Linked DNA regions of Homo sapiens: all the other regions are linked to region 2. Evidence: fine-mapped expression QTL. A gene starts in region 2. Each other region holds a variant in brackets. All regions are shown on one strand. Distances are from middle to middle.

Region 1 (8,282 bases), 150 kb after region 2:
TGGCTGTGAATCCATCAGGTCCTGGGCTTTTTTTGGTTGGTAGGCTATTTACTACTGATTCAGTTTCAGAGCTCATTATTGGTCTGTTAAAAGAATCAATTTCTTCCTGGTTCAGTCTTGAGAGGGTGTATGTGTCCAGGAATTTATCCATCTCATCTAGGTTTTCTAGTTTGTGTGCCTAGAGGTGTTCCTGATAGCTTCTGATGGTTATTTTTATTTCTGTGGGGTCAGTGGTAACATTCTCTTCATCATTTCTCATTGTTTTTATTTGAATCTTCTGTCTTTTCTTCTTTATTAGTCTAGGTAGCAGTATATCTATCTTATTAATTTTTTCAAGAAACCAACTCCTGGATTCATTGATCTTTTGAATGGTATTTCGTGTCTCAATTTTATTCAGTTCAGCTCTGATTTTGGTTATTTCTTGGCTTCTGCTAACTTTGGGGTTAATTTGCTCTTGCTTCCCTAATTCTTTCAGTTGTGATGTTAGGTTGCTGATTTGAGATCTTTGTAACTTTTGGATGTGGATATTTAGTGCTGTGAATTTCTCTCTTAACACCACCTTAGCTGTGTCCCAGAGATTTTGGTATGTTGTATCTTTGTTGTCATTAGTTTCAAAGAACTTCTTTATGTCTGACTTGATTTAATTATTTACCCAAAAGGGAGCATGTTGTTGTTTTTTAGTTTTTTGTTTTTGTTTGTTTGTTTTGTTTTTGAGACAGAGTATCTCTCTGTCGCCCAGGCTGGAGTGCAGTGGCACGATCTCAGTTCACTGCAAGCTCTGCCTCCCGGGTTCACGCCATTCTCCTGCCTCAGCCTCCCAAGTAGCTGGGACTACAGGCGCCTGCCACCACGCCCGGCTAACTTTTTGTATTTTTAATCGAGATGGGGTTTCACCATGTTAGCCAGGATGGTCTCTATCTCCTGACCTCGTGATCCGCCTGCCTCGGCCTCCCAAAGTGCTGGAATTACAGGCGTGAGCCACTGCGCCTGGCCACATGTTGTTTAATTTCCATGTAATTGCAAGATTTTGAGCAATGTTCTTAGTCTTGACTTCTATTTTTATTGTGCTGTAGTCTGAGGGTGTGTTTGGTATGATTTCAGTTCTTTCACATTTGGTGAGGATTGTTTTATGTTCAATTATGTGGTCAATTTTAGAGTGTGTGCCATGTGGTGATGAGAAGAATGTATATTCTGTTGTTTTTTGGGTGGAGCGTTCTGTAAAGGTCTATTAGATCCATTTGGTCCAAAGTTGAGTTCAGGTTCTGAATAGGAATGAGCCAATTTTTAAAAGAGACTAATAAAATACTATAACCAGGTGTATCGTGGATATGGCAAAAAAAATTGTTAGTAGTCTATGAATAACGAAAGTTTGGAATCATTGGTAATTTGGAGAGATCATAGGCTAGGAGTCAAGAGGCCTAGATTTGCATTTTGAGTATTTATAATTTTAGAATGTTTGTAAGCCATTAGATTTCTTTATCTCAAAATGTTCACCTGTTAATTTTCAGGTAAAATTATATGTGATTCACAACAATAGCTATCATTGATAGACCCTTTGTTATGAGCTTGAATGTTTCTAAAGATTTTATACACACTACTGAATACTCACAACCACCCAGCAACGTAAACAGTATTATTATCTCTGCTTTGCAGAAAAGGGAGCTGTCTTAGTTCATTCAGGCTATTATAACAGCATACCATAGACTGGGTGACTTATAAGCCACAAATTTATTTCTCTTAGTTCTGGAGGCTGGGAAGTCCAAGATCAAGGCAGCACCAGATTTGGTGTCTGGTGAGGGCTGCTTCCTGGTTCATAGATGGTGCTTTCTCACTGTTTTCTCATATGGCAGAAGAGGTAAGGGAGCCCTCTGAGGTCTCTTTTATAAGAGCAATAATTCCATTCATGGGAGCTCTGCCTTCATGACCTAATCACCTTCCAAAGGCCTCACCCCCAAATACCATCACACTGGAGATTAAGTTTCAATGTAGGAATTTTGAGAGGACAAAAACATTCAGCTCATAGCAGGAGCCAAGATACAGAAAAAGATCTTATTCCAAGATTACACATTGAGTAGATGGTGAAACCAGGAGTCAGACTCAGATAATCTGGCTCCAGACGCTACGTCCTTAACCACCAACATTGTCTGAGAAACATTTGCAAAATTTATTTTAAATTACAGAGGCTCAATATGTTCATCCACTTCTCCAACATTATCTTTGAGTCACACCATTTTGTTTTATTGAAAGAGCTGCAGACTAGTATGGACCTGTGTATCATGCAGTTCTGCAGTGTAGTCTTGGGAGTGGGTCTCTTAATATTCTGGCTACCCTGCATAATAGAAGACTGAGCCTCATTTCTCAGCTCTGTCAGAGAAGAGAGAAACCATCTCAGAAGAACCAAGTGGTTTTGGTAACATTAAGCAACCCCTAAAACATTCTCCAAGTAGTATTTTTCCAAAGCTCATGTGATCAGAATACACTGTGGATGTCTCAGCCTTCTTCCTCATCTCCGTCTTCCCCCACCTCAAACACACTTTTATAGGTTGTTTTAATTTAGAAAGTCAGCACTTGCAAGTACATTTTATACACCCAATGAAAACTGTAAGAGGTTTCACAGGTCATTTGCCTCGTCTGAGCCCAACCCCACAGCATTCTATGGAGAAGGCCCCAGAATACTCTAGAAGAAGGTGTATTTGCTGGGATGAAAGGACAGGTGAAGGCCAACCTAGAAAATTTTCTGCTGCTCTTAGGTTATGTTATTAAATTGTAAGTTTCTTAGAGGTCCAAGTTAAAAAAATAAATGTCAAGGTTATTACAATTTAAACTTTTAAAAATCTTTGCCAGGCTTATATTAGAAAGGATTTTACCTGTGGCATAAACAATTAAATATTTCTTTTTTTGTTTTTTTGAGACAGAGTCTTGCTCTATCACCCAGGATGGAGTGCAACAGCACGATCTAGGCTCACTGCAACCTCTGCCTCCTGGGTTCAAGTGATTCTCCTGCCTCAGCCTCCTAAGTAGCTGGGACTACAGGTGCATGCCACCATGCCCAGCTAATTTTTGTATTTTTGGTAGAGACGGGGTCTCATCATTTTGGCCACGCTGGTCTCGAACTCCTGACCTCAGGTGATCCGCCCACCTCAGCCTCCCAAAGTGCTGGGATTACAGACATGAGCCACCACGCCCAGCCAAGAATTAAGTATTTCTATATATGACTGATCTATGACTTTGTTTCTAATTTTTTTTAGGACATTAAGGCAGTTCATAGTAATCTGTATATTATTTGATTCATTTTATTATTAGGAACAGATACACAGTCTAAATAAACTTGACCCATATAGACCAACCAACTTATATATTTTTCTGGGAGTATTACTAGAGAGAAGCTTCTGTAAACTTATGCCATTGTTTGTTTTGAAATTAAACTGTAAGACAGTTTTATTTTAAACATATGCACAGGCACAGGCAACAAAATAAAAAAACAGACAACTATATCAAACTTAAAAACTTTTTCACATCAAAGGAAACAATCAACAGTGAAAAAGCAACCTACAGAATGGGAGAAAATAATTGCAAATTATATGTCTGATGATGTGTTAATATCTAGGATATAAAAGCTTCTACAATTCAACAAAAACAATATATAAATAACCCAATTAAAAATGATCAAAGAACTTTGAATATACATATCTCCAAAGAATAAATACAAATGACCAATAAACACATGGAAAGATGCTCAACACCACTAGTAATTAGGTAAATGCAAATCAAAACCACAAATGGATATTGCCTCACACTTGTCAGGATGGTCACTATCAAAACAACAGAAAATAACTAGTGTTGGTGATGATGTGGAGAAATTGAAATCCTTGCACATTACTGGTGTGAATGCCAAATGGTCCAACCATGGTAGAAAACAGTATGGAGGATGCTGAAAAATTAAAAATAGTGTTTCCATGTGATTCAACAATCCCACTTCTGTGTCTCTATCCAAAGGAATTCAAAGCAGGATCTTGAAGAGACACAGGCCCACCTAATGTTCACTGCAGCATTATTCACAATAGCCAAGAGGTGGAGGTAACCCAGATGTCCAACAGCAGATGAATGGATAAAGAAAACATGGTAC[A/G]TACATACAAAAGAATGTTATATAGCCTTAAAACGGAAGAAAATTCCGCAATATGTAACAACATAGATGAAACTTGAGGATTTTATATTAACAAAAATAAGCCAGTTACAAAAAGACAAATACTGTATAATTTCACACATATGATGTATCTACAGTAGTCAGTATGATAGAAACAGAAGGTAAAAAGGTAGTTGCCAAGGGCTTGGGGGAGGAAATTCAGGAGTAATTGCTTGAATTGATGAATTGATTAATTTATTGATTCATGAAGGTGGTTTTAAAGAGCTGGAGGGGAACCGATTAAAAGGTTTAGTGGGCATAGAGTTTTGGTGGTGGAAGATGAAAACCGTTCTAGAGATCTGTTTTACAATAGTGGGAATATACTTAACATTACTAAACTGTACACTTAAAATGGTTGAGATGATAAATTTAATATTATTTGTTACCATGATTTTTTAAAAATGCACAGATTCTGGAGCATGTGGGTAAGGATGATGCTAATTCTTATAGGCTATGACAAGGTATCATTCATATTTTATTTTTAGACCTCAGGTCACTTTGGATGGTGGGCAATTGATTCTAGACCGTAGATTTTAGATTATGGAGAATTATCTGACTCTTCCATATCCCATTCAGCAGAAATTACAATATGCATTTTATGGAATTAAATATGAGAAAAGTTGTATAGCATCTTCTACACCTCTTGCCTTTACCATACCTCACTGTGATATGAATATTATCATCACAAGGAAATACAATTATTACAAAGTTGCCAGTTATCAGCAGAGGCTAGAGCAAAACAGAATGAATTAATTATTATAAGTTTCTACTTTACTGAGATACAGAGATAGCAGTGAGCAAAGGGCCATCAAGACATCACTTAACAAGCACTGAAATTAAAGAATGTGTTAATGACATGTGTTGAGAAAGGATGTGAGTACATCCCACAGGACTGTGAATGAACCATTGTGGAAACTGCATTTTCATGTGGGGATCCGAGCACAAATATGTGTGGCCAGGACAGGTACCATCATTAAATAGCGTTGTATTTCTCTTTAACAACCATATTCCTTTGGCAAGGGTATATGAGGACCAGATATACAGGGAAAAGGGGTAGATGCATGGACTAGGGTTAAATTCAATGGCGAATTATGACAAGGAATAATGAAATACAGATAATTCCTAGAAAAAAAGATCAAAATAAGAAGTGAATTACAAGGCAGAGCACATAATTCATAATCAACTCTATCACTACAGTCACCACAGTGTACCACTAACTTTTTATATATACCTTTTCCCACCTCTGTCAACATTGAGCTCTTTCAGGGAAGATCCTCTTATTCTTCCATGTGCCCTTGTCACCTATTATAGTGCTTGACACAAATTGAGTATAGAGTAATTGCTTGAATTAATGAATTGATTAATCCATTGATTAATGGATCTGTCAGCTAATTGTAGCCATAAAGCTAAGAGTAGCCATCCTTCTTTTGAAATCATTGGCATCTAAAAGGAACTTGTGATGATTAGCTTTATGTGTCAACTTGACTGGGCCATGGCTACCCAGATTAAATATTATTTCTGGGTGTGTCTGTAAGGGTGTTCCTGGATGAGCTTAGCACTTGAAGCAGTGGACTCAGTAGAGTAGACTGCCCTCCCCACTGCGGGAGGGCATCATCCGGTACATTGAGGGCCTGAATAGAATAAAATGTGGAGGGAGGAGGAATTTTCCTCTTTTCTCTGCCTCACTGTTTCAGCTGGGACATTGCATTTCATCTTCTGCTGCTTCTGGACTGGAATTTACAGCCTCAGCTCCCCCTGGTTCTCAGGCCTTTGGACTCAGACTGAATTATATTGTTAGTTTTCTGGGTCTCCAGCTTGCCAAAAGCAGATCATGAGACTTACCAACCTTCATAACCACGTGAGGCAATTCCTCATAATAAATAAATATATACAGACATATTTTGCATTTCACAAATATTGCATCTTTTATACATTGAAGGTTTGTGGCAGTCCTGAATTAAGCAAATCTATCAGCACCATTTTTTTTTGCAACACCATGTGCTCACTTCATATCTTTGTGTCACATTTTGATAATTCTCACAATATTTCAAACTTTTTCATTATTATTATACCTTTTTCAGTGATCTGTGGTCAGTGATCTTTGATGTTACTGTTGTAATTGTTGTGGGGCTCCAAGAATTGCACCCATATAAGATAGTGAGCTTAATCGGTAAATGTTGTATGTATTCTGACTGCTCCACTGACCAACCATTCCCCCATCTTTTTCTCTCTCCTCAGGCCTCCCCATTCCCTGAGACACAACAACATTGAAGTTAGGCCAATTAATAACCCTACAGTGGCCTTTAAGTGTTCAAGTGAAAGGAAGATTCACACTTCTCTCACTTTAAATTAAAAGCGAGAAATGATTAAGCTTAGTGAGGAAGGCATGTTGAAAGCCAAGACAGACTGAAATCTAGGCCTCTTGCACCAGTTAGCCAAGATGTGAATGCAAAATAAAAGTTCTTGAAGGGAATTACAAATGTTACTTCAGTGAACACACGTGTGAGAAAGTGAAGCACCCTTGTTGCTGATAGAGAAAAAGTTTTAGCCGTCTGAATAAAAGATCAAACCAGCCACAATATTCCCTAAGCTAGTCAAGGGCAGTTCGTGAGGTTTAAGGAAAGACACCATCTCCATAACATAGAAGTACAAGGTAAAGCTGATTGAGAAGCTGCAGCAAGTTATCCAGAAGATCTAACTATGATCATTGATGAAGATGGCTACATGAAACAACAGAATTTCCATGTACACAAAACAGCCCTCTATTGGAAGAAGATGCCCTCTAGGGCTTTCATAGCTAGAGAGAAGTCAGTGCCTGGCTTCAAAGCTTCAAAGGACAGATTCTCTTCTTAGGGGCTAATGCAGCTGGTGACTTTAAGTTGAAGCCAGTGCTCATTTACCATCTAGAAATCCTACAGCCTTTAAGAATGTGGTGTTTTTTGGCTGCATAAATGTCTTCTTTTGAGAAGTGTCTGCTCATGTCCTTCACCCACTTTTTGATGGGGTTGTTTGTTTTTTTCTTGTAAATTTGTTTGAGTTCATTGTAGATTCTGGATATTAGCCCTTTGTCAGATGAGTAGGTTGCGAAAATTTTCTCCCATTTTGTGGGTTGCCTGTTCACTCTGATGGTAGTTTCTTTTGCTGTGCAGAAGCTCTTTAGTTTAATTAGATCCCATTTGTCAATTTTGTCTTTTGTTGCCATTGCTTTTGGTGTTTTAGACATGAAGTCCTTGCCCATGCCTATGTCCTGAATGGTAATGCCTAGGTTTTCTTCTAGGGTTTTTGTGGTTTTAGGTCTAACGTTTAAGTCTTTAATCCATCTTGAATTAATTTTTGTATAAGGTGTAAGGAAGGGATCCAGTTTCAGCTTTCTACATATGGCTGGCCAGTTTTCCCACCACCATTTATTAAATAGGGAATCCTTTCCCCATTGCTTTTTTTTCCTCAGGTTTGTCAAAGATCAGATAGTTGTAGATATGCAGCGTTATTTCTGAGGGCTCTGTTCTGTTCCATTGATCTATATCTCTGTTTTGGTACCAGTACCATGGTGTTTTGGTTACTGTAGCCTTGTAGTATAGTTTGAAGTCAGGTAGTGTGATGCCTCCAGCTTTGTTCTTTTGGCTTAGGATTGGCTTGGCGATGTGGGCTCTTTTTTGGTTCCATATGAACTTTAAAGTAGTTTTTTGCAATTCTGTGAAGAAAGTCATTGGTAGCTTGATGGGGATGGCATTTAATCTATAAATTACCTTGGGCAGTATGGCCATTTTCACGATATTGATTCTTCCTACCCACGAGCATGAAATGTTCTTCCATTTGTTTGTATCCTCTTTTATTTCCTTGAGCACTGGTTTGTAGTTCTCCTTGGCCATCAGAGAAATGCAAATCAAAACCACAATGAGATACCATCTCACACCAGTTAGAATGGCAATCATTAAAAAGTCAGGAAACAACAGGTGCTGGAGAGGATGTGGAGAAATAGGAACACTTTTACACTGTTGGTTGGACTGTAAACTAGTTCAACCATTGTGGAAGTCAGTGTGGTGATTCCTCAGGAATCTAGAACTAGAAATACCATTTGACCCAGCCATCCCATTACTGG
Region 2 (8,000 bases):
GCCACAACCTCTGCCTCCCAGGTTCAAGCGATTCTCCTGCCTCAGCCTCCCGAGTAGCTGGAACTATAGGTGCGTGCCACCATGCCCAGCTAATTTTTGTATTTTTAGTAGACAGTTTCACTATATTGCCCGCCTGCCTGCCTGCCTGCCTTCCTTCCTTCCTTCTTTTGAGAGAGACAGGGTTTCTTGCTCTGTTGCTCAGGCTGGAGTGTACAGTAGTGTACTCTGATGATAGCTCACTGTGGCCTCTAAGTCCTCGGTGGGCTCAAAGTGATCCTCCTGCTTCAGCCTCCTGATTAGCCAAGTAGCTGGGACTACAGGTGTACACCACCACACCCAGCTAACTAGAAGTAGTCTTTATGATGGACTGGCATTTGTTCAGTTAAAAATGGAGGACTCTGTTACTGAGGAGGAAGGGGTGAGCAGATATGGAGGGTCAACCGGCAATCTCTGTCAGAGAGGTGATGGGGATAATGGTATACTTTGGCGTTAAAACTGAATTGAACTGGATTGAATATAATGAGGCTAATAATGAGCCACCATGAAAGTAAAAGAAAAATAAAAGGTATCTTTAGATTGTTTTAATCTGGTTATAGAGCGAAGGTCCCTTTTAATAAAAGTGGAAAACCCAAAAGAAATATATATTTAAGATGTATTGCATATATATAATAAAGTGTCCCAAGTAAGCCACTGTGCAGATAACATAGGAATATGATACAGTTGCAAACCAAATCTGGTAAATAACTATGCAGGCTTCTTCCTTCCACTTCTCTAAGGCAGGGCAATCAACCATGGGTTTTTGCTGTTATTAATGTGATAAAATAATATGTTTGGTATGGTGTCTGGCAAATAATAAATGTTCAGTAAGTAGAATGAATTCTTAGTATTTTAATTATATTTTTAAACAAAGGTCATCTAGGGGAAAACAGAAGTATGAGGATTGAGACTTCTTCTGAAAATCAGTGAGTGGCTCTCTGCAGTGGTTACAGAAATGCCCCAGCATGGACTCCCTCCTGTAAACTGGCTCTGCTGTCCCAGCAGTGACGGAAAGCACTCAATTTGTTTTCTCTTGGAAGAGACAGAGTGGCTGTCAGTTTACTGCAATATTTTGGACTGCCTGGAAAATTCAATGTACAACAGGAGAAAGGAGAGGCAGGAGACAGACTCTGGAATAGAAGTCAAAGACAAAGAGGCTCGTAAACATCAAGATTCTGGGGCTAATCTAGCCATTCACAGCTTTAGAACCATGGACAGTAAAACTTAAAATATATACTATGTTCTAACCACCACAAGGTTATTCACTCTAGCAACTAAAAAAGCACTGGCCTCAGGATTTGCAACATTAAAAGTCACAGCTCATCCACCATCAGATGCTAACTGACCCTGCTGTTCCACAAGCCATAACTACAGCTTTGATTGGACAAGAGTCTGGTTTCAGTAACTTTCTCCTGATTAAGAAGACCACTGACCATTGACTGGTTTTGCCAGTTTACAGAGATTACACACTTACCTACCTTTGTATGTAAAATGATCTTTTGATATATAAAGCATAACTGTAGCACATTTAAATGTTAAGTAGCCACCCCAAAGTGAACATGGGTCATATGTTACGTGCATGTTTGTTCAATAGGCATGTGTCAGGACCACCTTCATGAATATTCATAGCTCCTCCTGTAACCAGTTAAATATATATGTTTAGCCAACCTCTTCAGCATAAAGCTCCCACCCCAAGCCCTCCTTTGAAGGGCCTGTCTCTAGTTTTGCCTGGATGGCCACCTTGCAGGCTGTAACCCTTTGGAAGAAATAAAGTCTCCTCTCTCCTTTTCAAAACTTAAAAATTGTGAATTTTTATTTTTATTTTATGTATTTAACTTTTAAGTTTAGGACACATGTGCAGGTTTGTTATATAGGTAAATTCACATCATGGGGGTTTGTTGTACAGATTATTTCATCACCAAGCTATTAAGCCCAGTAATTATTAGTCATTTTTTCTGATCGTCTCCCTCCTCACCCACTCTGCCCTCCAGCAGGCCCCAGTATCCGTTGTTCCCCTCTATGTGTCCATGTGTTCTCATCATTTAGCTCCCACTTATAAGTGAGAACATGCTGTATTTGCTTTTCTGTTGCTAAGGATAATGGCCCCCAGCTCCATCCATGTTCCTGCAAAGGATATGATCTCATTCTTTTTTATGGCTGCATAGAATTTCATGGTGTATATACCACATTTTCTTTATGCAGTCTACCACTGATGGACATTTAGGTTGATTCCATGTCTTTGCTATTGTGAACAGTGCTGCAATGAACATAAGCGTGCATGTGTCTTTATGACAGAGTGATTTATATTCCTTTGGGTATATACACAGTAATGGGATTGCCAGATCCTATGGTAGTTCTGTCTTTGAGGAACTACCACACTGATTTCCAAAATACATGTGGCCAACAAGCATATGAAAAAAAGCTCAATGACACTGATCATTAGAGAAATGCAAATCAAAACTACAATGGATTTTTTAAGTTAATAATGTGAACAGGCTGAGTATGAGGGACATGGTGGCCCAAGCTTGAGTATATATATGGAACCGTTCTGGCGAGGGGAGTTGTACAATGAAGACAATTTGTGCAGGGCTTCTCATTGCAGGTGGAGGATATGACTTCGTCACAAAGACAACCATTAAGAGTTTTGAACAGAGTAAAAGCTGGAGAGGTCTGTGTTTTAGGGAGGTGGAAATGGGGATGATGGACTGGAAGGGTAAAAAACCAGAGATTGGTTTTGAAGCTGCTGTACCCATTCCAGAGAAGTGTTGCATTGACAGAGCACACAAGTCCTCGAATAGGACCGTGGTTAGAACGGCCGATATTTATCAGTGGGAATGGTAAACATTTATCAAGTGAGCAACCAAGTTCAGTTACTTAATCTGAGTCTCATTATGTCTTCTATAAAATACACATTAAAAATAGAAAGTAAAAACGTGGGTAAAGTACCCAGTGGATGGTCATTACTCAGAAAAAGGTATTTTAAAAGTTTCTCCCTTATTCTTTCTGAGTACAGCCTGTAGTACTTGAACCACTTCTCTTTCGTCCCCTACCACGCTGTTCTGCAATCTCTTTTTACCTGTCTCACTCTCTTCCTGTACTGTGTGCCTCATCGGGACTTCTAAAGGCTTACGGCCTAGGTCTTTGTATTCCGTGTCTCTGGCACGCGCCTCTGCACACAGCAGGCCTGAACCAAAACTTGTGAGCAAATAGGATGTAAGGGGGTGAAGGAGGTGGGCGCGAAACGGGTTCGAGGTCGCGCACTCCGCCGGTTTCTGCCGCCAGCCCAACCCCGCTGGGTCGTACCTAAGAGATCGCCGGTGTCAGAGCGCAGCGGGCACCTTCACAAGCATCTTGAGGGACAAGCAGAGTCGCTCCTCCCGCAGGGCGCGGGCTAAGAAGTGAGGAACCCAAGGGGCTCCCGTCCAACTAAGAAGCGAAATCCCCCACCTCCAGGCCTTCAGGGCTGGTTCTTGGGAAATCCTAACTCTTTCCCTTCTAACCCCTTCCTTGGCCCTTCTTCCTGCCCGGGAGGATCAAGGGCGCTGTTTTCCAGAAGCTGCCGGGTCGGAAACGGTGGGGGAACGGGGCGGTACGCGTGGGTGGAGGATAGGCGGGGAGGGGGCAGTCCACGAACTTTTGTCATTCAGCCTGGGAGACCACGGTGACATTCCTGTCTGCGCTGCGGGCAGGCCAGCCTCTCCGGCCCTGGACTAGGGGGCGCCGCCGAGAGAAGCCGCCGCAGGCTGCAGAGTCGCCGACCGCGCTGTTCGCAGGCAGACCCCGGGCTGCCCACCGCGGCCTAGCGCGCGCCGGATGGCAGGAGAAGTGTCCGCGGCCACGGGCCGCTTTTCGCTGGAGCGGTTGGGCCTCCCGGGCCTGGCCCTCGCCGCGGCCCTGCTGCTCCTGGCCCTCTGCTTGCTTGTCCGGCGCACCAGGTAAGCGCCTCGGCCGCCAGGCCACGCATGCGCCCTGGGCCCCGCGGGCCGCGCGCGACCCAGATGGCGAGGGGAGTCCCCCTCCATGATTTCCAGTGCAGACAGTCAGAACTTGCTGCGGGGTACTGGCTTCCTTTGGGACTTTGTAATAACAAAGGCTTCTTCTGTCTTTTTCCCACACATACGCGTACATATTAAAGCTTTGGGACCGAATTCCATTTGCTGCTCCAGCGTAAGTTGTAATAAGCCCTAGGTTGGCGGTATGCATTATGCATCACAGACACATTGTGTGCCTTGCCACTGCGAGTTGATATTTTATGGCCTAGAATTCATAGAGCATTTCAGGAGGGGAATATTCTTAAATTTCATCAGTTAAAAGAGAACTGTTTCAAGAAAATGCCAGTGCATGGTGTGAACAATAACTCTGAGTGCCTCTCTTCCTCAGTTTACCTCACTGTACCTCATTTGGAAAGCTGAAATAATAGTACATGCCTCGTGAGATTTTTGTGAGTACTAAATGAGTTAATGGAGAGTATTTTATGCAGTTGTCCTATCATTTTTATAAGGACAAAACAAAACACACAATAATGACAAAATCTAGACGTGTGTCACTTTAATTTGAATTGTGGAAGTAGAAATAGAGAAGTTCAGATAAAATCATTCACTTTGAGTTTAATCTGTTTTTCCTTTCTTTCTGGGTCCTATTTTCATACTGCTCTGGTGTTCATCGCTTTTGAGAACCAAGCGGATGCATTTTGTTGGATGATAATTGATATATGTATGTATATTTGCATACATATGTATCAATGTATAGATATCTATGTGTGTGTGATACAGGTTGTTTCTCAATAGTTTTGGGGGAAGTGACACCTTTGTACTGCATACAAATATCTATGGACATTTCTAGAATGCCTGGAGATGAGTACTCTAGGAGTATTTGCCTTTCTTCCCATGTCAGTTTTCAGAGATGTTCCTGGAATGTGCGCTTCCAGGTTGCCTTTTCCAATGGCTGTACTTTTGCTTTAGAGCCCAAGATGAGGACTCAGGACACTTGAACTTCAGTGGTATGTGATTCTATGTAGGTTCCACCTTCTCTATTTGCAGGGTCTCTATTTGCATTTGCAAGCCAGTTAAGATGCACCCCTAGGTATGCCTTTAAAGAGAGGTGGTAAAAGAAGGCTGTTGGTTCTATTCCCACTTTACATGCAGGGTAGAAACAGACAAGCTGACTAGGGCAGTTTAGATCAGTGAAGGTGATTGGTGTGAGAATGTGGAACTTGAGGGACAGGAAGGCAAAAGGGCAAGGTAGGCTTTCTCTTCTAGCATTCTGAGAATAGGCTGATCTTTCTCTATATCATGAAAAATTATTTTACTGAGATATTCATGCCATCAACTGCCAATTCCTTCATACCAGGAAGACCGTTTAATGCCCCAAATCTATAGGACACTACTTTGATTATACTGCATTTCAGTGTATAGAAGATAGCTTCATTTGTCCCAGTACAGAGTCATGTTCCTTATTTCTAATGTTTGGATAGTTTACCCTAATGCTCTACGAAAATGATTTTTCAGATATCACCTCTAAGAACAGAAACATGGTTAAGAGTCCCTGATATATTCTTACAGATTTTTTAAAGCTTATGCTAATATGCATGAATATATGTTAATAAAAATCGTGGGGAAATATACCCTGTGTTGCACCTTATATTTTCCACTTTGCAATACATTTTAGATCCCTTCCTATGTCAGTTTATAGAAGTCATTATTTGTAATGATTATATAAATATACACCATAGATACACAAAAACACACACACAAAACATAGATATCTTTGAGCTTTTGTGGAAATATTTATGTAAGATGGTGGAGTTGTTATCAAAATGTATGTGTGCTTTATGTTTTAATAGATGTTGCCAAACTACTCTAAGTCTCAATTTATGTTACTACTAATGTAGTGCAAGTGCCAATTTCTCCACATTCTGCCAATACTGGTATTATAAATCATTTTAATTTTGCCAATCTGATACATAAAGAAAATGCAGCTTCATTTTTATCCCAAATTTTCATGTATTTACTTTTAAAGGAATTTGTATACTTTTAAAGAAAATAATTGTCTGTTTCTTCAATAATTTATTTTTCTATTGGGTTCTTTTTCTATATAATCAGCAAAGACTCTTATGTAATGGGAATTTTCATACTCTTTCATACCAGCTGCAATTATTTTTACTATTGTAATTTGCATTTGTTTAAGAGTTTCTGGATATATGTCCTTGCTTAGAAAGCCCTTCTTGTTCCTAACATGATAAAAATATTCAGCACAGTTTTCCATTATCACATTGAGAGATTTTTATACATACATAGATTACATTTTTATTCTCATTCCATTTTCATCTTTTGAACAATTATGGCTGAAAAGTTTGTAATATTGCATAGTATAGGAATGCCAGATGTTCCAAAGTAAAAATTTAAATATTACCTATAAAAATGGTAAAAAAATTTTTAACAATCGGTAAAAATCAATTCAGAGGTCATTTGTTCCCTTCAGACACTTACCAATTCCACCTCTTTTGGCTACAGTACTTTGATTTCCTTTTGTGAAATTGTCTTTTCCCTTGTTGGATATTATCTGGTGAGACTGTCAATCACAGATGCCATTGCAGTACTTGTCAGGAGAGATGACAGTGGCTTAGCCTAGGGTTGTGACTGTGGGGTTGATGGAAGGTGGTTAGAATCAGGATACATTTTTGACAGCAGAGTCAACATAATTTACTAATGGACTGAACATGATGTGTGAGAGAGATGGGAATCAACAATGAAGCTTAGAAGTTTTGTTTCCCTTTTTTTTGGTTTTGGGTTTTTTGTCTGATTATTTAGTGAACGGTAATATCATTTCCTTAGATAGGGAAGGTTTGGGAGAATTGAGGAAATCAATAATTCTCTTTGGGTTATGTTAAATAGGCAGTGAGCACCAAAAGCTCAGGGGAGAGGTCCAGGCAGGATACATATTTGTGAAAGCCATAAATGTGAAGTGGGAATTAAAGCAAGAACAAGTTGAGATCGCCTGATGAAAGGGTTTGATGGAGAAGAGGAGGGCCTGGGCCACTCTCCTTATGGAAACTGAGCCTGGCGGAGAAAGAGGAAAATATTTTACACTCCTTTCTAGTCAGTTCCTACCCGAGTTCTGAGTCAGTTTTGCTCATTCTCAAACTTCATATAAATGGGATTATACAGTATCCTTTTTTGCGTATAACTTATTTCTCTCAACATAATGATTTTAAGATTCACTCATGTTGTTGTATCTATCATTAGTTCATTCATTCTATTTAATTGTGGTTTGTAATATATATAACATATTGATTGAGAGAAGATTGAGGGGCATAGAATATAGAGTTTTCTATCCACAACCATTTCGGAAAATTGACACTTTTCGAAGTAATTGTTGCTTTTTTTTTTCTGAACACTTCCGCCAGTAATACATGAGGGTTTACGTTGCTCCACATCCTTGCCAGTATTTAATAATGCCAGTCTATTGATTGGAAGCACTATCTTTCTGGATTTTGGATTTTGTTTTTTTCCTATGAAGTGTTGATTTTTGTTTTAGCACGCAGATACATTTCTGGCTAATTATTCTGAACTCATGGAAGCTTAGTTTTACTCTTTGTCAAGGTGAATCTATGAAAAGCTTGAGATATTTACAGATTCTCTCTTCTTTGGTGATGCTATGGTTTGAACGTTTGCTTCCCCTCTAAAATTCATATGTTGAAATCCTAACTCCCAAGGTGATGGTATTAAGCAGTGGGGTCTTTGGGTTATAATTAGATCATTAGGGCAATGCCTTCATAGATGAGATTAGTGTCCTTATAAAAGAGATCCCAAAGGGCTCCCTTGCCCCTTTGTCCATGTGAGGACACAGCAAGAAGATGGCCATTTATGAACCAGGAAGTGGGCCCTCATCAGATACTGAATGTGCTTGTGCCTTGATCTTGGACTTCCCAGGCTCCAGAACTGTGAGAGATAAATCTCTGCTGT
Region 3 (8,285 bases), 73 kb after region 2:
GTCCCAGAGGAAGTGACACTGACAAGAAACTTTACATTAAAAGAATGCTTCAAAATATTTCATAACATTCAGAGCACACAGGACAAAATGTTAGAATCGGATCCAAATTTAGAAAGGAATGTGATGATTCATCAGGACATAGGCAAGATGCTTACCCCATTTCTTGTAAGTTTCATGACGAGAAATTCAAGCTATTCTTGGTTAAGATTTTTATGAAGGGAAAAAATCTCACGCTTAAAATGTCTTCTGGTGTTTTAAATTACACTATGCTGGATAAATATTAGTTATATTAATTTTTTATTTCTCTAACATTTATAACTAACATAAGAGTTTTTAACGCCTCGACAAACAATTTTAAAGGTCAAAGAACAATCATAAATTTTTGCATTTATTATTAACACTGCTTTGCACAGTTCAGCATAAATGGTCATGTTTATGGCTCTGCACCATCTTGCAAGTCAAGGACTGCCTTCGTGTGTGTCTGAATGTGTCTCTGTAAGATTGTGTGTGCATGAATGTGTGTATGTGTGCATGTGTGAATATGTTTGTGTATGTTCTGATCAAGTAATGAAGGATAGAAAGTCCTAGATTAATACTTTTCACTTTGTTTTGATGTGTCAAGTATCATAAGATCATCTGAAATACATATTTACATTAGCTGTTATCTTAGAGCTTCTCTGATTTTCTTACAGTTTTTCTGAGACAGGGTATCGATCTGTTGCCCAGGCGGGAGTGCAGTGGCACTCTCACAGTTGTCTGCAGCCTCAACTTCCCAGGCTCAAGTGATCCTTAGACCTCAGCCTCCCTGATAGCTGGGACTACAGGAGTACACCACCATGCCCAGCTAACTTTTCTATTTTTTTATAGAGATGGGGTTTTGCCATGTTCCTCAGGCTGTTCTTGAACTCCTGGACTCAAAAGATTCACCTGCCATGGCCTCCAAAAGTGCTGGGATTATAGGTGTGAGCCACTGAACCTGGTCTAAGGTAGAATTTCTTGGGTAGGATATTCTCTCTTAACAGTCTTTTTTCACTCATTGCATTATAAACAATTTAAGAAATGGCAGAAATTTCTTGAACATTTTGAAACTGAATTTCAGTTGTTTTCCTGATTTTTTCTAGAAGTGTTTGATAATTCTCTTGAGTTTTTCTTAACGATAATAATCATTCTAATAAACACAATAATAGCAACCAACATTTACTGAACATTTAGTATGTGTCAGCTTCTTTGCAGAACATTTAATATATATTATGAGGAAATGCAATGCTTTTCTTTTACTCAACAATTATAATAACTTAAAATTTGAATACATCCGGAAGGAGAAGTCTTTTACACATCAATTATGGTTGGTGTAACTGACACCTTAAGAGTTTTTCACATCTGAGATAAGGGGCTAACAGTGTGGGGAAGGATCTGTTGCTGATCTCTGCACTTTTGCTCACTGCATGTGACCAAGTGGCTTTAGTGGCCTGAGACTTGCTCTCTAGAGAGAAGCAGTAAGATATGACCACTGAAACCAGCACAAGGATCTAAAATGTGCTTTTACCTTGTATTTGGTAACAATATACTTGGTAACTTGGTGGTATGATACATGGAAAAAGAACCAGTCTAGTAAGTGCCTAGAGATACTGGCAGTGCATGATAATTAAACTCTCCAAATCCTCCCATAGAAAACTCAATGAGCTGTATTTACTTCTTTCTGGCATTATAAAAAATTATGTATCCTTTTATGTGCAGAGACAGTTCCTTAGGGATGAAGAGTTATGCATGCTCATTAACAGAAGAATGTGTACCACAGCAGGTACTGCATGCTAAACCCACGACTTATGACCCTATTGTCCAAATGAGTGGCAAGCATAACTTCTCCATTGTGGTGGTGAATGAGAGGATGAAGAGATAATGATGGTAATGAAAGAGGTTAATTTAAATGTTCTTGATCCATACTTTTGTTGAATATTCAGGTATATTTCAAATTAACCATGCTTCTTAAAAGGTTGGAATCCAAGTGTAGATTTTTTTTGCTTCATTTCCTGTGTTTTGAAATAGAAGATACCATTGGAGTTCTGTGTTAGAATTGTCCAAGCACATTGCCCTGGCTGTGAACCTTGAGTATTGGTTTTAAGTCTGTCAGTCTAAAAAAACTTTAGATTGTTCTCGTTGGGCTTTCTAGACTGACTTTCCCTGACTCTGTGGGCATGTGTATTAGCATAATCTTTGCCTAAAGATTTCTACTTGGTCAACTGTTCCCTATAGTCCTTTTCAGTTTAGAAGAATGCAGTACTGGGACAGATGCGGTGGCTTTGATGTTGGAATCTTCATGATAATTCTTCTTTTCAAAAACTTAGGTCCTTTGTGTCATTTACTATTATGATCAATGTACATATTGTGTGAATACCTAATTCATGAGAATTATCATGAAAATTGGCTCATTGACTATATATACATTAAAAGATCTCAAGTGAACAAAAAGTAATTTGTGAGGAAAGATAATTGAATGAAAGCAACAAATGCTAGGGAATTATGTCATTTGGAAACCTAGTCAGCAAAGAGAAATGGTGAATTATTATACTTTTTGCTAAAAGAAATAAGAAGGATAAAAATTTAGGCTCTCAAATGAAGGAAAATGAATTGAGAGCCTTTATAATACTGTATTGTCTCAGATTGGGTTCCTCAGAAGTAGAACTCCCAGGGGAAACCCTTAAGTGGGCAGGGAAAGCACAGCAGGGAAGGGAGAAAGTGGAGGAAGGGTTTGACTTAGCTTGGACAGAATCTCCCAGAGTGTGACTTCATTCAGTCTAACCCTATAGCACTCTGGAGTATGAATTAGACCTATTTGTGTTGCAGGTTCATGCTCCTTCATCCCATACTCATTGGATGATAGTCTCAGGGTGTGCAAAGGATCATAGGCCCTCAGGCACTTCCCACTTTCTGCCCTTGTCACAAAGTGGCTCCATCAGCCTGAGAGTTGTCCTCCAAAGAGCTACAGGAATTGGGGGTGGGGGACTGAAAGCACCAGACCACAAAATCGGGGTGGGGTGCATGCAAAAGTGGCAAGAAGGAATGGGAAGGAGATTCAACATTGTCTGCTATACAGATGATCCTAAGTTAACTTCAGAATCGTTTCCAAAAGAAATTCTCCCAAATAATAGTGATGGTTATCTGTATTTGTACAGGCCACACAAGCTTCTCACATTTATTATCCCATTTAATCTTTGCCTTAACACAGCGAGGTAGAACACTCAAATCTTGCAAATCAGGCAGCTACTGTTCAGAGAAGCTAGGTAACTTGCTTAAAGATGCAGCGCCAAAAAATGGAAGGGCAAAGCCACAGCCAGCAACCCTGACTTCAATCTAGTGCCCGTTCCAATAGGAGGTTGCTTTTATTATGTACTTTTTTAACCTGGTTAGTTTCCCTGTGAGATTCAAACTACTTTTTGTAACTGGGTTCATTACTGGGCCATTAGTCAATGCATATTTTCTAAGCTGATTTCTATTAAATTGAATTTAAAAGGCAGACTTTCTTATCCCCCAACGTACATCATCAGTCTCTGCAATTTCTCAGATACTTGTAGATTTATGGGGCTAGCCTATGGGCCATTTTAAGTCACTTCTGAAACAACTTTGTTAATAAAAAGAAGAAAACGTTTGGGAATAAAAGAAACAATTGAGGGCATTTTTTTTTAAAGATCAGAGGGGTAGAAGAAGGTTTCTTATCCTACATGTTTGTTCCATAAAAGGGATCTATATTTCTTTAGTTTCATCTCAAGAAGACAACACCTTAATTAAACTCCAGTGGGCCAGTTTAATTAAAAAATGTCAGTCAGATCCTCACAGGAGAACAAGATATCCATGAAACAGACGGTCTGCTTCCTTTGTGATTACTCAGAAATCTCTGGCCCTGCAGCCACACGACAGCGGATTGTTGTGGTGAGCAGAGCTTGTGCATATCCACTGAGAAGGGTGGGCTTTTGGTGGACCAATGAGTGAGGTCAGGGCATGATGAAGGAGAAGAGATACTAGGCAGCTGATCAGAATCTAGATTATCAACAGTCAGAGATGCTTTTCTCTATCACTGTGTGTTACTAATGGATTCATAGTCATATTTTCTGTTTTCATCACCAAAAGATATCTAAGAAGTGTGTCAGTCTTCCCTCCCTGCTCCTCCTCCTAACCTACCTTCCTCTCCCACTCTCTGCATTCCCTTCTGTGATCTGACAGGCCCAAGCCTTGCAGTTATGTGTGTATATGAGAGCCTTTTAGTAGCTACTTCAGCCTGAATCCAGCTCCCACTGTCAGCAAGGAAGCCACCTTCTGAAACCCTAGGGCAAGAGTCAGGGAGAAGGATTTAAGAATCACAATGTATTGAGGGCTTAGAGTAGTCATTCCTGCTTC[T/C]AGGTGTTTTAAATGCATGATTTCACATAATGCTGACTTTAACATTACCTAACTTGACACAGGGGGAAAGTGGAGAGAGACGTTCAGTGATTCTCCAAAAGTATAAAGCAAGTGTAGAAGTGGACAGGGTGTGACACCTTTCTTTCTCACAATAAGGGTCATGGCTGATACTTTGATAACAAAACACAGCTTAACAAGAGAAAAGCATAGCATCTTTATTTAAATAATCAACATTTTATGTGACTTGGGAGCCTTCACAATGAAGACCCAAAGACTCAGAGAACACTGCCTATTTTTATGTGTAGGTTTGGTGAAAAATGGACAGCTATGTAGAAATGTGATTGGACCAAAGGGGGTGATCTAATGGTTACGGATTGATGGGGAAACCCAACAAGGCCTCCCATCTGTTCAGATTCTTCTTGGCTTCTCTGTTGTAGTATTTCTTCTCACTGGAATGGGCAGGAAACCTCTGGAATGAGGGTCTTATGACGTACTATCGGACAAGGTTAGGTCAGAGAATTTCTTTACAGCCAGCTGACAGACAGAAAGACAGGGGAAGGTTAGAGTAATATTTCTAGGTTTTATGTCTGTCTTTGGGGAAAAGGGGAACTGCCTTGGGGAAGAGGAATTCTGTTTATTCTGACTCACCTTAAGAGAGAGCCAGGGAAGAGAAACAGGAGGGCAGGAGGGCAGAGAGATCTTCGTTCTGAGGCTGCTTCTGAGCCCTACATCTTTTAGTTCAAAGTACTCAGCACACCAAAGCATCATACTTTGGAGTATCATTTTCAGAGCCCCAATACAAGCAAATGAAGAAACTAGGAATTAACCTGCAAAGCTGCCTGTTAACCTGAAAAGCTTCCAGCCAGACTTGCTTCTCAGACATCTCTTCTTTATTTGTGAAAATGACTTTATTGTTTTAATCTGATTATTTAACTATTACAGGCTCATTGTAAAAATCAGATATATCAGAATAATATGCTGTTGTCATTGAGGACTTTTGGAAAAAAAATTCATTCTTTTGGCTGGGCGCGGTGGCTCACACCTGTAATCCCAGCACTTTGGGAGGCTGAGGCGGGTGGATCACGCGAGGCCAGGAGTTAGAGACAAGCCTGGCCAACATGGTGAAACCCCGTCTGTACTAAAAATACAAAAATTAGCTGGGCGTGGTGGCACATGCCTGTAGTCCCAGCTACTTCGGAGGCTAAGGCAGAAGTTAGGAGAATCTCTTGAACCCAGGAGGCAGAGGTTGCAGTGTATCGAGATTGCGCCACTGCACTCCATCTAGCCTGGGTGACAGATCGAGACTCCATCTCAAAAAAAAAAAAATTATTCTTTTGGTTACTAGCCAACCCTCCACCCCTACCTCCCCCAACCCCGTTCCTTTCTATGCTTATATCAACAACCTGTACATAGCCTTTCAGACCGTTCTCTGTGGGCATATGATCTGTTCAGAACTTTGTTTATACACCCATGTATGTGGAGGGATTTTGCCAGTTAGTTTTTTAAAGATGTGTTCTCTGCATCTTATTTTTTATTTAAGAGTATATCATGAAAAATTGTCCTGGTCAACTGGTGTAGCTTTAACAGACTCTTTTAACGTTCTATAATATTCCATACTATGAATGGCCGACAGTTTTTCTACTTTGTTTTTGTTTTTTTTTCTTTTTTAGCTCCAAGAAACAATTCTACAGCAAATATCTTTGATTATATATGATTTTACACTGGTGCTTTTATTTCTTTGAGATTGGTTTCTTAAAGGTGAGGTTTTAGGGTTGAAAAATGTTTGCATGTCTTATTTTAACAGATATCTTTAGATTGCCTAAGCAGTTTCTAGAACATGATTATACTTTATAACAAAAATCCATCAGACATAACTATGGACATGTGTTCCCAACTAAAATCCGACTTTTACAAATCTTGACTGTCTTAGTCAAATGTGTTAATAAAGATTTCAACCCTGGATTAGGTACAGACTGGAATGGTAGTATGCTTACTTGTGAATTTCCCTGCTGAACTTCTGGGTTACTTAAAATTCACAAAAGTTCTAAAAATTTTACTTATTGGGCATTTGGATAAAAAATTGTGGCATAGCACATCTATTTTGGCATTTATTGATAGAAACTTGATGTTGTGTCATTATAGAATGATAGGAGTTTGGAGGGGGAAGTGTTACATTGACTGCTACTGATTTTATCTTGTGTATGGTTCCTCCATATACTGTAGAAAGCACCATAAACTGTAGAATTACTGTGAATCATGTCTTGATGGAATGTGTCACTGGAGCATGCTGCAGAGTTATCTCATGTAGTGCTTTGTTGAAAGCCTATTTCCAAAACGGTTTTCAAAATGTTCAAGTTTTTAGAAAGAAGTAGACATTTATTTAAATTTACTTTAAAGACTACTGATTCAGGGCTAATGATTGTATAGTTTATTAATCAAATGTATTTAGCAGAAAAAAAAGCCAGCTACGATTCACTTACAATTGAGATTTTACTCTATTTTAACGTTATTTTAATGAGCTACAGATTTGAATGTGGGCTTTGTTCATCTGTTGCTTCCGCTCAATTGCAGTTTCACCCTAAGAAGACACAAGACAGATTGATCAGGCTTCCAGTCATTGTGAGGCTTAAATGAAGTGAACAGGGCCTTATGTTTCTAAACCAAATGAGAGGATTAAGGCAAAATAATAATAATAAAAAAAAACCTCCCGCCCCCCCCCCCCCGCCGCAAAAAATCATTCTACTCCCTTTAAGTCATTTGTTTGATTTTCTTAAATTTTATACTACGAGATCCCAGTTTTCCTAGGTAAGCATCAGGAGTTGAAACCATAAAAGTGAAAATTGCAAATATCCCACAGAACTATTAACATGTGTCCATGTAAGCAAAAAACTACTGTGTTATCTCATTTTTTGACACACACTAATTTCAATGCAAAAGTAAAAGCATTAAAATTATGTTAGATTTTTTCTAGTAGCTAATGTCCTTATGTCTAAAGTTAGAAAGGTATTTATCATCTAATGCTTTGTTGAAATTATTTCATGTTTATTTGATTTCTTTACATTAAAATGAATTTGTTTGAATTAAAACATGATTTTTATGGCTAATATTCATAGCCATATTTTCAACACTGAGTTTGTCTTGGGGAACTTCTCTGATGGGCCACATAAGGTCTGGGAAGCACATACTGGACAGCTTAGGCTGCTCTGTTTTCCATTTGCAAGTACAGTCTAGAGAGGCCAGGGCCTTCCAACATAGAGTTTTCCATTGTAATTATAAACTAGTTTTGCTGCGTAAGATGCAAAAGGAACTTCACTTTCAGGAAGCAACTTACAGCATGATGTATGGCAGCTTTGGCCAATTTCATTAAACAAGAAATTAATTATAGTTTCTGAACTTCCATGGCTCAACCTCCTGATAACAAGAAAAGCATTGTGTGCTCCTGTTATGCTAATTTTTAAAATTATAAATTGTTTATAGTTAATTCGAGGTTTATAAGTTAAATTTTTAAGCAAGAACAGGCCCTGATTAACAATAATCAAATTTCTATAAACTGACATTCTTGGTGGAATAATACAGATTCTTTTGACTTATTTGAATAATTCAATAAATGAAACATTTACAGTAGATAATGTTATCTATATCATATGTGTCATAATTATATAGGCTGTGTATCTTGCTATCTATCATAAAGATATAGTGTTATTTACTGCAAATGTTTTCATAGATATGAAATATATATCTGTAAATATTTTCATCTATACAAAGTATTATTTTGTATATATTAGATAGAATCCAGGATGGCTGTAAGTCATACACATTTTTAAGACGGTAAATTTCAAGAGGAGAGCTTGCTGTTGCGAAAAAGTCCTATCGCTAATACTGTGCATCACAAA

Which allele goes with the higher level. Alleles are on the strand shown, and positions count from the first base shown. SD is a standard deviation of normalised expression in the study named. Not every link is listed here.
For the expression in subcutaneous fat of the gene that starts at base 3,700 in region 2, T is the low allele of the variant in region 3 and C is the other (large effect, 0.89 SD a copy in FUSION).

The links.
Region 1: its variant is fine-mapped to the expression of CYP7B1 in lung (TOPMed, PIP above 0.99). The same link has a PIP of 0.9 or more in esophagus mucosa.
Region 3: its variant is fine-mapped to the expression of CYP7B1 in subcutaneous fat (FUSION, PIP 0.95).

The regions. Positions count from the first base shown.
Region 1 is chr8:64,645,274-64,653,555 of GRCh38, reverse strand. The region is part of intron 1 of CYP7B1 (cytochrome P450 family 7 subfamily B member 1); the gene reads left to right. Among named protein-coding and RNA genes, the nearest start is that of BHLHE22-AS1, 68 kb to the right of the region's middle. The variant A/G (reference allele first, on the strand shown) is at 4,127.
Region 2 is chr8:64,794,437-64,802,436 of GRCh38, reverse strand. It overlaps CYP7B1 (cytochrome P450 family 7 subfamily B member 1), which reads left to right and starts at 3,700. Exons shown (of 6, transcript NM_004820.5): 1 at 3,700-3,971. The coding sequence starts at 3,850. LOC105375879 (a long non-coding RNA gene) reads right to left here and starts at 3,656. Exons shown (of 3, transcript XR_928992.3): 1 at 3,340-3,656. It overlaps LOC105375878 (a long non-coding RNA gene), which reads left to right. Exons shown (of 4, transcript NR_188111.1): 3 at 1-69; 4 at 911-1,838. RefSeq lists silencers at 3,733-3,782, 3,793-3,902.
Region 3 is chr8:64,721,574-64,729,858 of GRCh38, reverse strand. All of the region lies in intron 1 of CYP7B1 (cytochrome P450 family 7 subfamily B member 1), which reads left to right. Among named protein-coding and RNA genes, the nearest start is that of CYP7B1, 73 kb to the left of the region's middle. The variant T/C (reference allele first, on the strand shown) is at 4,393.